2 separate regions of the Homo sapiens genome follow, and region 2 is linked to region 1. Evidence: fine-mapped expression QTL. A gene starts in region 1. The other region holds a variant in brackets. All regions are shown on one strand. Distances are from middle to middle. Region 1 holds the start of AKAP7 (A-kinase anchoring protein 7). Region 2 overlaps AKAP7 (A-kinase anchoring protein 7).

Region 1 (5,200 bases):
TGTTCTCTCCTGAGCAATTACCAAGTATTTTGTGGGGGGTAGTATTTTGGCAACTTATAAATATTTCGGTCCACATTAACCTTTCATGTAATGGTTTTAGAATATATTGATGATCTTTGCATCAATCAGTTATCAGTTGTGGTGGCAAAATGGTAATTTTCCAATTATTTTATGTCTCCTATATTTATTATTGAAAATTCTTCTGTGCAAAGCAGCTTTCCCATACTACTACTTCTAAAAAGTCATGGTAAATCTTTCTTTCCCTTTAATTTTTAGAGTAAGGAGACTAAGGAATTGCGTACTTGTCACCTTTAATGGTGGCCTACTAGTTTTTCTTCCTCATTTTTTGAGTATTATTATGGGTATATAGATTTTGTATTCAGTATGTTACAATAATTACAGGTGTTATCCTTTTATGATGTCAGATTATCTCCCATTTGCTCAAAGAAAGCTGTTTCTCGCTAGTCCTTGTGTTTTTGATAGTCCCCATTTGTCTTTGCTTTTTGGCACAAGAAGATGTCCAAGGTTCACCTTGTACTTCCCTTTCTCCCTGTCATTTCTAAAAGAAGCTCTGTGAAAAATTCCTTTTTCAGACTTGGGTAATTAAAATGTTCCTCCACATGGTAGGTGTTGATAAGACTCTGTATTCATAATACTGGTGGTGAAAAATATGTGGCATTTGGGCTGTTACCTCTGCTTAGGTAAGAGAATGAAACTTCCATATATCTCTTGGTACACACCACAGGGGAAGAAAAATCTTTCTCCTGCCCATTTAGTTCACTAGGTTGGACTGTGTAAATTAAATTGACAAAAGACAGATTAAGACGAGAAAAGGATTATTACACATGCACATAGATGCTTCACAGGAAAGAACTAAAAGCCCGAAGAGGCAGTTAGAACTGGGGGCTTCTATACCATTTTAACGATGATAAAGTGTGGAGAGGCTAGACAAAGGAAAAGGGGGCTTAGCCTTTTTGCAGTATGGGAAGGTTACTAGAAAATGTATGGGTTTGTTATGCAGGTAAGACTCATTCTCCTCTTTCTGGTATGGGTGAGTGGTAAAGCTTTGTTGTTTGTTTGTTTGTTTGAGACAGGATCTGGCTCTGTTGTCCACACTGGAGTGCAATGGCATCATCTCAGCTCACTGCAACCTCCACCTCCTGGGCTCCAGCGATCCTCCCACCTCAGCCTCTGGAGTAGCTGGGATTACAGGCATGGGTCACCACGTCTGGTTAATTTTTGTATTTTTGGTAGAGACAGGGTTTTGCTATGTTGCCCAGGCTGGTTTCAAACTCCTGGACTCAAGTGATCCACTCGCCTTGACCTCCCAAAGTGTTGGGGTTACAAGCGTGAGCCACTGGGCCCGGCCTGGTAAAGCTTTAAAAATAAAAATTTATGTCACCTTTACGAAGGGAAATTTATGTCCTGCTTTTAGGCAGAAAGGGGGAGGTCAAAGTTGTTCCTGAGTCTTTAGTTTCTGAACTGTTTTAAGCTCAAGAATAATCCTTATGCTGAAGTGGCATATTTGGGGTGGCATATTCTCATCCTCTTCACTATGAATGTGGACCACATTTTTGCAGCTTTTATTTCCGCAGTTACTTATGTTTCTTTCTCTGCTATTATATGATCAGCTCCATAAGTAAAAGACCTGTCTTACCTGCACATCCTCAGCACAGAGCTCAAGCATTAAATAAATATTAGGGGAACTGGTTGTACTTTCCTACCAGCCCATAAATGGGCATCAGAAACTCAACGTGTTAGAATTATTTGAAAATCAGAGTAACTAGTTTGCCGACTTCTAGTGTGCAGCCTTTACGCCAGCTGTTGTGGCTGTGTAGGGGTCTTCTTTTCTTCCATCCCTATTCTACGATGCATTCAACATAAGCGAAGTGTTATTATTCACGAAAGGCGCTAATTTGTGGACGGATGCACCTAATGTTCTTAACCCCTGGTTTCTTCGCACTAAAACCAATCCCAATAGCATTCCGTTTCAAGTGAAAGGTTTTTATTTTTTTAAACTAAGTAAATTTCTTTTTCTCCCAATTTACTCACTGCAGTACCTTATACTACAAGAACCAGCAACTGGTTTCCTCTTAATGTCTAAACATAACATCATTGTTAAAAATTAGAGACTTTGTCACAATTTGCAGTTTTTAAAAGTAAGGTAAATAAAGTATCTCATTATACAGAAGTACAAGGTCTCGTTCTTGTACATTTCGCTCTTCCCAAATATTCTGCAATCAGAACCCTGATTGCAAAACTAAGCACATGGATTCTCAAAAGACACCAGGCCAGAGAATTCTTTCATCCTAGTCCCAATCTCGCCCTTGAAAGCGTGGGAGGGGCAAGGCTGCGCCACGGGAAATAAATGAGGGCTGCCAAAGGCCGTCGGAGGCCGCGGGGCTCGGCAGGCAGGCGAAGACCCAGCGTCGCATTGCAGAGTCGAGACGACCTGGGCTGCCGTGACGCCGCAGTCGCCGGCCCTAGTTTCCCCCGCCCTGCCCGAGCGCGTCCGCGCCTCTCGCCCGAATCCGGGTACCACCGGCGACTCGGGTCGGCCCCTTCTGGCTTGTTCCGGCGTCCGGCCTGGCATGCGGGTGCTGCGGCTGCTGCGGCTGCCGCCGCCGCTGCTGCCGCTGCCGCGGGGGCTGCGGCTTGGGAAGCTCCGCGCTTCCGCAGGCCTGGCCTCCGCCGCCCGGGCCCCCGCAGCCTGTCGCTGGACCCCGCGCCGGCCCAGCGCACCGCCCTCAGGCCCCGAGCCCCGCCCTGGCCTCCGCCTCGGCCTCGCCTCCAGCCCCGGGACGCGGCCCGCCACCGCCGCTGCCGCCAGCCCAGACGCGCCGCCCGCATGCGCCGCGACCATGGAGCGCCCCGAAGCGGGTGAGACCGGGCTGTCCAGCGGGCCGGGGCGGGGGCGACAGGAGCCGCGGGGGCCTGGGCCTGCTCTGCGCTCGAACTTTGGGAGGGCCTGACCCGCGCCGGCCCTTCTCCGAGTCTCCCTCCTTCCCAAAAGGACTCAGGGTAGCACCGAGAAGCCCGGTGCAACCGGGGTGTACATCAGTGCTGCCTGTAGCGAAGCGTTTTAATGCACGCATTGTGGGTCCGACAGGAGGCGGGGGTATGAGCCCATCCCCGAGTTTCACTTTTCTTTCTCCCTTTCTCATCCTGTGACCCTTTGCACAAAGTTCATGCCAGTACACATTCCTTCCGACGGTGTTGATGTGGGTAAATGTAAACAAAACCTAGTAAAATTTCGATTTTATCTTATATCACAAATATTAAGCACCCGAACCACCATACTGTCTCATTTAGGATTTTCTGCCAGGTTTGGACATGACCGCTTTTAAAACTGGCGCCAAGTCTACACTAGCGCCCGGAATGAATTTCCAGTTTAGGTCAGCGTTTGTTGTGAACTGAACTTTGTGATAGAGCGAGTTAGGGGTGGACTTTCGGTAAAAGGGTCCGCAAACCAATTAGAGAAAAGGTGCTCCTCTGCAAGAGTTTCATAGGATAAACTCATAGAAGAGTATAAAAAGCATAAAAACGTTAAAGTGTACTATATAAATAGCAGTTAATCGTGTGAATATGTTGACAATTGTTAAGTGAATGATGACAGTGAGTTTTTGCATTTAGGAAATGCATGGGAATGGAAATTGTTAAGGAGAAAAGAGCCATACTCCAGTTCCTTGTTTAAGTGCCGTGGCTTTGCAATTCAGGATCCTGTTAGCATATCTGTATATTTTCCTTACTCATAAAGTTTAAGATGTTTGTGGAGGTTACTTCCTCCTTTCATCCATTTTCGGACACTATTAACTTGTTTTGTCCATTTCTCCCTAATAATTTGGATTTTACTTTTGTTCCCTTTTTATGAGGAGGAAAGGAAAGCCTGGAGGTCAAGTAACTTGTTGATTTCTACGCAGCTGTCAACATTTACTAACGTGTAAGATGCTAATACTATTTTTAGTAGCTAAGCCAGGACTAGAATGGATGCCCTTAGCCCTTTCCAGTTGTTCTTAGGAATAAACTTATTTATGTATGTACTTATGTATGTATGTATATATGTATATATGTATTTAGAGACAGGGTCTTCCTCTGTTGGCTCAGGTGGAAGTGCACTGGCGCGATCATGGCTCACTGCAGCCTAGATCGGCTGGGATCATGCCAACCTCCTGTTTCAGCCTCCCCAAGTAGCGGGGACTACAGGTCTGTGCCAACATGCCTGACTAATTTTTGTATTTTTTTTTTTGTAGAGACGGGGTCTTGCCATGTCACCAAGGCTTGAACTCCTGGGCTCAAGCAGTCCTTCTCTGAGTGCTGGGATTACACGTGTGAGCCAACTTGCTCAGCTGGGATAAATTTACTATTTACCTAGTAGAGTGATGAGAGACTTACTTCACAAAATTGAGTAGTCATTTATTATCCAGTTAGGAAACCTGCATTTTGTGTGACAGTGGGAGAACTCTCCATACCCTTTTCTCTCTCTTTTTTTTTTTTTTAGAGGCAAGAGTCTCGCTCTGTCGCCCAGGCTGGAGTGCAGTGGCACAATCTCGGCTCACTGCAACCTCCGCCTCCCAGCTTCAAGCGATTCCCCTGCCTCAGCCTCCCGAGTAGCTGGGACTATAGGTGTGTGCCACCACGCCCGGCTAATTTTTTGTATTTTTAGTAGAGATGGGGTTTCACCGTGTTAGTGAGGATGGTCTCTATCTCCTGACTTCGTGATCTACCTGCCTCGGCCTCCCAAAGTGCTGGGATTACAGGTGTGAGCCACCTCACCCGGCCCACCCTGTTGGCCTGTTTTTGATGAAGGCATTTGCTTCACCTGTATTTGAATATTTGCATATATTTAAAGGTATGGTTTTATAATATACTTAAAATGTATGTATTGTTTTTCTTAGGTAATATTCAATTTTGAAACGTTTGAATAGCAGAAATGAGAAACATGAATATATTCAATATAGTTGTCAGCATTTACAAGCAGTTTATACTGTTTAGCCTTTGGCCACATAATTGTAAATCATAGAGCATATGCAATTTTATATCTCCTTTCTAAAAACTTGGCATTTGTTGTTAGCTTTTTTCTGTCATTGCATTCTTCATAGTCATTGTTCGTAGTTGTCATTGTCGCGAGCATGCTTCGTTTAACTGTTTCCCTATTTTTTTCATTGTTTCTATTTCATTGTACCCAGTCACCATCCATGTT
Region 2 (5,200 bases), 58 kb after region 1:
TAGGAACATAGTAAGTTAGTCCATCATGACATATGTAAAACCATAAGACATCGCTAATATTTGACTGTTTTTGACCCATAAAAGTGACAGTTTTGTATGATTCAGCCTAATATTTCAACATGAGGTTCTTTTAAAACAGTTGTGAATATGCCAAAATAGAGAGGGTCAAAGTTGGGTTATGACAGGGTAGTTGAGAAAAGAGAAGTTTTGGTAATTTATATGAACTCTAAGTTGATAAGTTAATTACAACGATAATTGTTAGGAATACACTCTCACTGTTTCATAACATGCTTATGCTGGACTTGTCTTTCTTTTTTTTTGGCTACCCAGCATCTAAATTTTTTATACCAATCTCTTGTGTTAGTTACATTCTTTCATAGACTTCCTTGCTGCTAGGGAAGGAAAATATGATCTTGGTCTGATGCAGACTTTGAATCAGAAGCTAGCAACTTGAAGAAGAAAAGGACCATGCAGAATTCATCCTTGGGATAGGTGTGTCATCAGTGACAGCTACTACCAGTCCAAGGCCAGTGGGAACAGTTTTGGCCCTTTGTGTGCTGTCTGTGGTTTGGCACCTAATGCTCACTGGGGTGCTGGTACTGGACCTGGGCTCCACCAGCACTTTGGACAGTGCCTGTCTCCTTGGCTTCATGGCCTTTCAGCCTGCCTGGTCCTCTGGTCCTCGTGGTGTTTTTTTTTTTTTTTTTGAGACTTGGTCAACTCTGTCACCCAGCTTAGCCTCCCAAGTAGCTGGGGCTACAGGTGCGCACCACCATGCCTGGCTAATTTTCATATCTTTTTGTAGAGACGGGGTCTATCCATGTTGCCCAGGCTGGTCTCAAACTCCTGAGCTCAAGCAATTTGCCCACCTCAGCCTCCCAAAGTGCTGGGATTGCAGATGTGAGCCACCATGCCCAGCCAGAAGCTTTTAAGCTTGGTGTAATCTCATTTATTTATTTTTGCTTTGGTTCCCTGTGCTTGTGAGATATAACTCAAGAAATCTTTGCCCAGACCAATGCCCTGGAGAGTTTCTCCACTGTTTTCTTGTAGTAGTTTCATAGTTTGAGGTCTAGATTTAAGTCTTTAATCCATTTTGATTTGATTTTTGTATGTGGTGAGAGATAGGTGTCTAGTTTCATTCTTCTGCATGTGGATACCCAGTTTTCCCAGCCCATTTATTGAAAAAGCTGTCTTTTCTGCATTGTATGCTCTTGGCACCTTTGTTGAAAATGAATTCACTGTAGATATATTGATTTGTTTCTGGGTTCTCTATTCTGCTCCATTGATCTATATGTCTGTTTTTATGCCAGTGCCATGCTGTTTTTGTTACTATAGCCCTGTAGTATAATTTGAAGTTAAGTAATATGATTCCTCCAGCTTTGTTCTCTCAGGATAATTTTGGCTGTTCCGGGTCTTTTGTGATTCCATGTGAATTTTAGGATTGTTTTTTCTATTTCTGTGAAGAATGTCGTTGGAATTTTGATAGGGATTGCATGGAATCTGTAGATTGCTTTGGGTAGTTTGGACATTTTAACAACATTGATTCTTCCAATCCATGAACATGGAATATCTTTACATTTTTTTTGGTGCTGTCTTCAATTTATCTAATCAGTGTTTTATAGAGTTCATTGTAGAAATTTTTTGCTTCTTTGGTTAAATCCTAGGTGTTTAATTTTGTTTGTGACTGTTGTAAGTAGGATTACTTTTTGGATTTCTTTTTCAGGTTGTTCACTATTGTCATATAGAAATGCTACTGACTTTTGTATGTTGATTTCGTATTCTGCAACTTTACTGAATTTTTTTCACCAGTTCTAATAGTTTTTGGTGGAGTCTTTGGGTTTTTAAAAAATGTAAGATCATATCATCTGCAAACAAGGATAATTTGACTTCTTCTTTTTCAGTTTGAATGCCCTTTATTTCTTCTGTTGTCTGATTGCTCTAGCTAGGACTTCTATTGTGTTGAATAACAGTGGTGAAAGTGGGTATCCTTGTTATGTTCCAGATGTTAAGAGGAAAGGCTTTCAGTTTTTCCTTATTCAGTATGATACGAGATGTGGATCTATTGTATATAGCTTTTATTATGTTGAAGTATGTTCCTTCTATACACAGTTCTTTGAGTTTTTTATGAAGGGATGTTGAATGTTATCAGATGCTTTTTCAGAATCAATTGAAATGATCATATGGTTTTTGTTCTTCATTCTGTTGATATGATGTATCACATTGATTTATTTGTATATATTGAACCATCCTTGCATCCCTGAAATAAATCTCATTTG[G/T]TCATGATAAATGATCTTTTTAGTGTATTGTTGAATTCAGTGATTTTTGCATCAATGTTTATCATAGATATTGGCCTGTAGTTTTCTTTCTTTGATGTGTCTTTGTCTGGTTTTGATATCAGGGTAATACTGGTCTTGTAGAATGAGTTTGGAAGTATTCCCTCCCCTCTATTTTTTGGAGTAGTTTCAATAGGATTGGTATTAGTTCTTTAAATGTTTGGTAGAATTCAGCAGTGAAGACATCAGGTCCCAAGCTTTTCATTGCTGGGAGATGTTTTATTATGACGTTTATCTCATTTGTTATTGGTCTGTTCAGGTTTTGGATTTCTTCATGGTTCAATCTTCATAGATTGTATGTGTCTAGGAATTTATTTGTGTCCCCTAGATTTTCCAATTTATTGTCATATAGTTACTCGTAGCAGCCACTAATGATCCTTTGAATTTCTGTGGCATCAGTTGTAATGTCTCATTTATCAGCTCTTATTTTATATATTTGGTTCTTCTATCTTTGTTCTTAGTCTGGCTAAAGGTTTGTCAATTTTGCTTATCTTTTCAAAAAAACAGCTTTTCATTTTGTTGATTTTTTTGTATTTTGTTTCAGTTTCATTTATTTCTGCTCTGATATTTATTATCTCTTCTACTAATTTTGGGTTGGGTTTGCTCTTGCTTTTCTAGTTCTTTAGAATGCATCATTAGGTTATCTATTTAAAAGTTTTGCTTTTTTTTGATGTAGGCACTTAAAACAATAAAATTCCCTCTTAGCATGGCTTTTGCTCTATCCCATGGATTTTGTTGGTATGTTGTAGCTCTATCATCATTTGTTTCAATAATTTTTTCAGTTTTCTTTTTAATTGGCCCATTGATTATTCAGGAGCATATTATTTAATTTCCATGTATTTGTATAGTTCCCCAAATTCCTCTTATTATTGACTTGTAGTTTTCTTCCACTGTGGGCAGAGAAGATGCTTGATATTAATTTTAGTTTTTTGAATGTTTTAAGACTTTTTTTGTGATCTAACATATGGTCTATTCTTGAGAAGGATTCATGTGAGGAAAAGAATGTGTATTCTGCAGCCATTGGATGAAACATTCTGTAAATATCTATTAGGTCCATTTGGTCTATAGTGCAGATTAAGTCTGAGGTTTCGTTTTTGAATTTCTGTCTGGAAGGTATGTCCAGTGCTGAAAGTGGGGTGTTGAAGTATCCAGGAAGTATGCAGCTATTATTGTATTGGAGTCTCTCCCTTTAGCTCTAAAAATATTTCCTTTGTATATCTGGGTACTCCAATGTTGGGTGTAAATATGTTTACAATTGTTATTTCTGTTGCTGAATTGATCCCTAAATCATTATACAATGACCTTCTTTGCCTCTTCTTACAGTTTTTGTCTTGAAATGTATTTTCTCTGATAGAATCATATGCACTCCTGCTCTGTTTTGGTTCCCATTGGCATGGGATTTCTTTTTTCTATCCTTTTTTTCCCAGTCTGTGTGCATCTTTATAGGTGAAGTGTGTTTCTTGCAGGCAACAGATTATTGAATCTTGTCTTTTTAAATCCATTGAGCCACTCTGTGTCTTTTTATTGGAGAGTTTAGTCTGTTTACATTCAATGTTATTATTGATAAGGACTTCTTCTTGCCATTTGTTATTTGTTTTCTGTTTGTTTTGTGGTCCTCTCCTCCTCCTTTCTTCTTGCCTTTTTTTTAGTGAGGGTGATTTTCTTTGGTGGTATAACTTAATTTCTCAGTTTTTATTTTTTGTGTATCAATTGTATATTTTTTGCTTTGAGGTTACCCTGAGGATTGCAAATATTATAACTCATTATTTTAAAGTGATGACAACTTAACCCTGATTGAATAAACAAACAAGCAAAAAGAAAACTAATAAAAACTTTACACCTTAACTTTGTCTTCTCACTTGTTAACTTTTTGTTGTTCTCTTTATGTCTTATAGAACTATGTCTTGAAGAGTTGTGGTAGTTATTATTTTGATTGGTTCATTGTTTAATATTTCTTCCTAAGATAGGACTAATCTATACACCACCGTTACAGTGTTACAATAGTACATATTTTTCTTTGTGCCTATTATTTCTAGTGAGTTTTGTACCTTCAGATGATTTCTTATTGCTCATTAATGTCCTTTTCTTTCAGATTTTCAGATTGAAAAACTCTCTTTAGCATTTCTTATAGAACAGGTCTGGTGTTGGTAAAATCCCTCAGCTTTTGTTTCTCTGGGCAAGTCTTTATTTCTCTTTCATGTTTGAAGGCTATTTTTATCAGATATACTATGCTAGGGTAAAAGATTTTTTTCCTTCAGCATCTTAAATATGTCATGATATTCTCTCCTGGCCTATAAAGTTTCCTCTGAAAAGTCTGCTGCCAGACATATTGGAGCTCCAGTGTATGTTATTTGCTTCTTTTTACTTGCTGCTTTTAGGATCCTTTCTTTATTCTTGACCTTTGGGCGTTTGATTATTAAATGCCTTTAGGTAGTCTTCTTTGAATTAAATCTGCATGGTGTTCTATAACCTTCTTGTACTTGAATATTGACGTCTTTCTCCAGGTTTGGGAAATTCTCTGATATTATCCCTTTGAATAAACTTTCTACCCCTACCGCTTTCTCTCCCTTTTTTTAAGGCCAATAACTCTGAGATTTGTCCCTTTGAGACTATCTTCTAGGTCTTGTAGGTGGGCTTCATTGTTTTATATTCTTTTTTCTTTTGTCTCCTCTGACTGCGTATTTTCAAATAGCCTGTCCTCAAGCTTACTAATTCTTTCTTCTGCCTGTTTGGCCCTGTTATTAAGAGATTCTAATGCATTCTTCAGCATGTCAGTTGCTTTTTTTTTTTTTTTTGAGACGGAGTCTCACTCTGTCACTCAGGCAGGAGTGCAATGGTGCAATCTCAGCTCACTGCAACCTCCGCCT

What was found. PIP is the estimated chance that this variant, and not a neighbour inherited with it, causes the effect.
Region 2: its variant is the best candidate, but not a certain one, in a credible set for the expression of AKAP7 in whole blood (TOPMed, PIP 0.51).

The regions. Positions count from the first base shown.
Region 1 is chr6:131,132,903-131,138,102 of GRCh38, forward strand. AKAP7 (A-kinase anchoring protein 7) reads left to right here and starts at 2,565. Exons shown (of 8, transcript NM_016377.4): 1 at 2,565-2,880. The coding sequence starts at 2,862. RefSeq lists enhancers at 2,196-2,696, 3,133-3,192 and silencers at 2,523-2,612, 2,763-2,872.
Region 2 is chr6:131,191,156-131,196,355 of GRCh38, forward strand. The region is part of intron 5 of AKAP7 (A-kinase anchoring protein 7); the gene reads left to right. Among named protein-coding and RNA genes, the nearest start is that of AKAP7, 58 kb to the left of the region's middle. The variant G/T (reference allele first, on the strand shown) is at 2,277.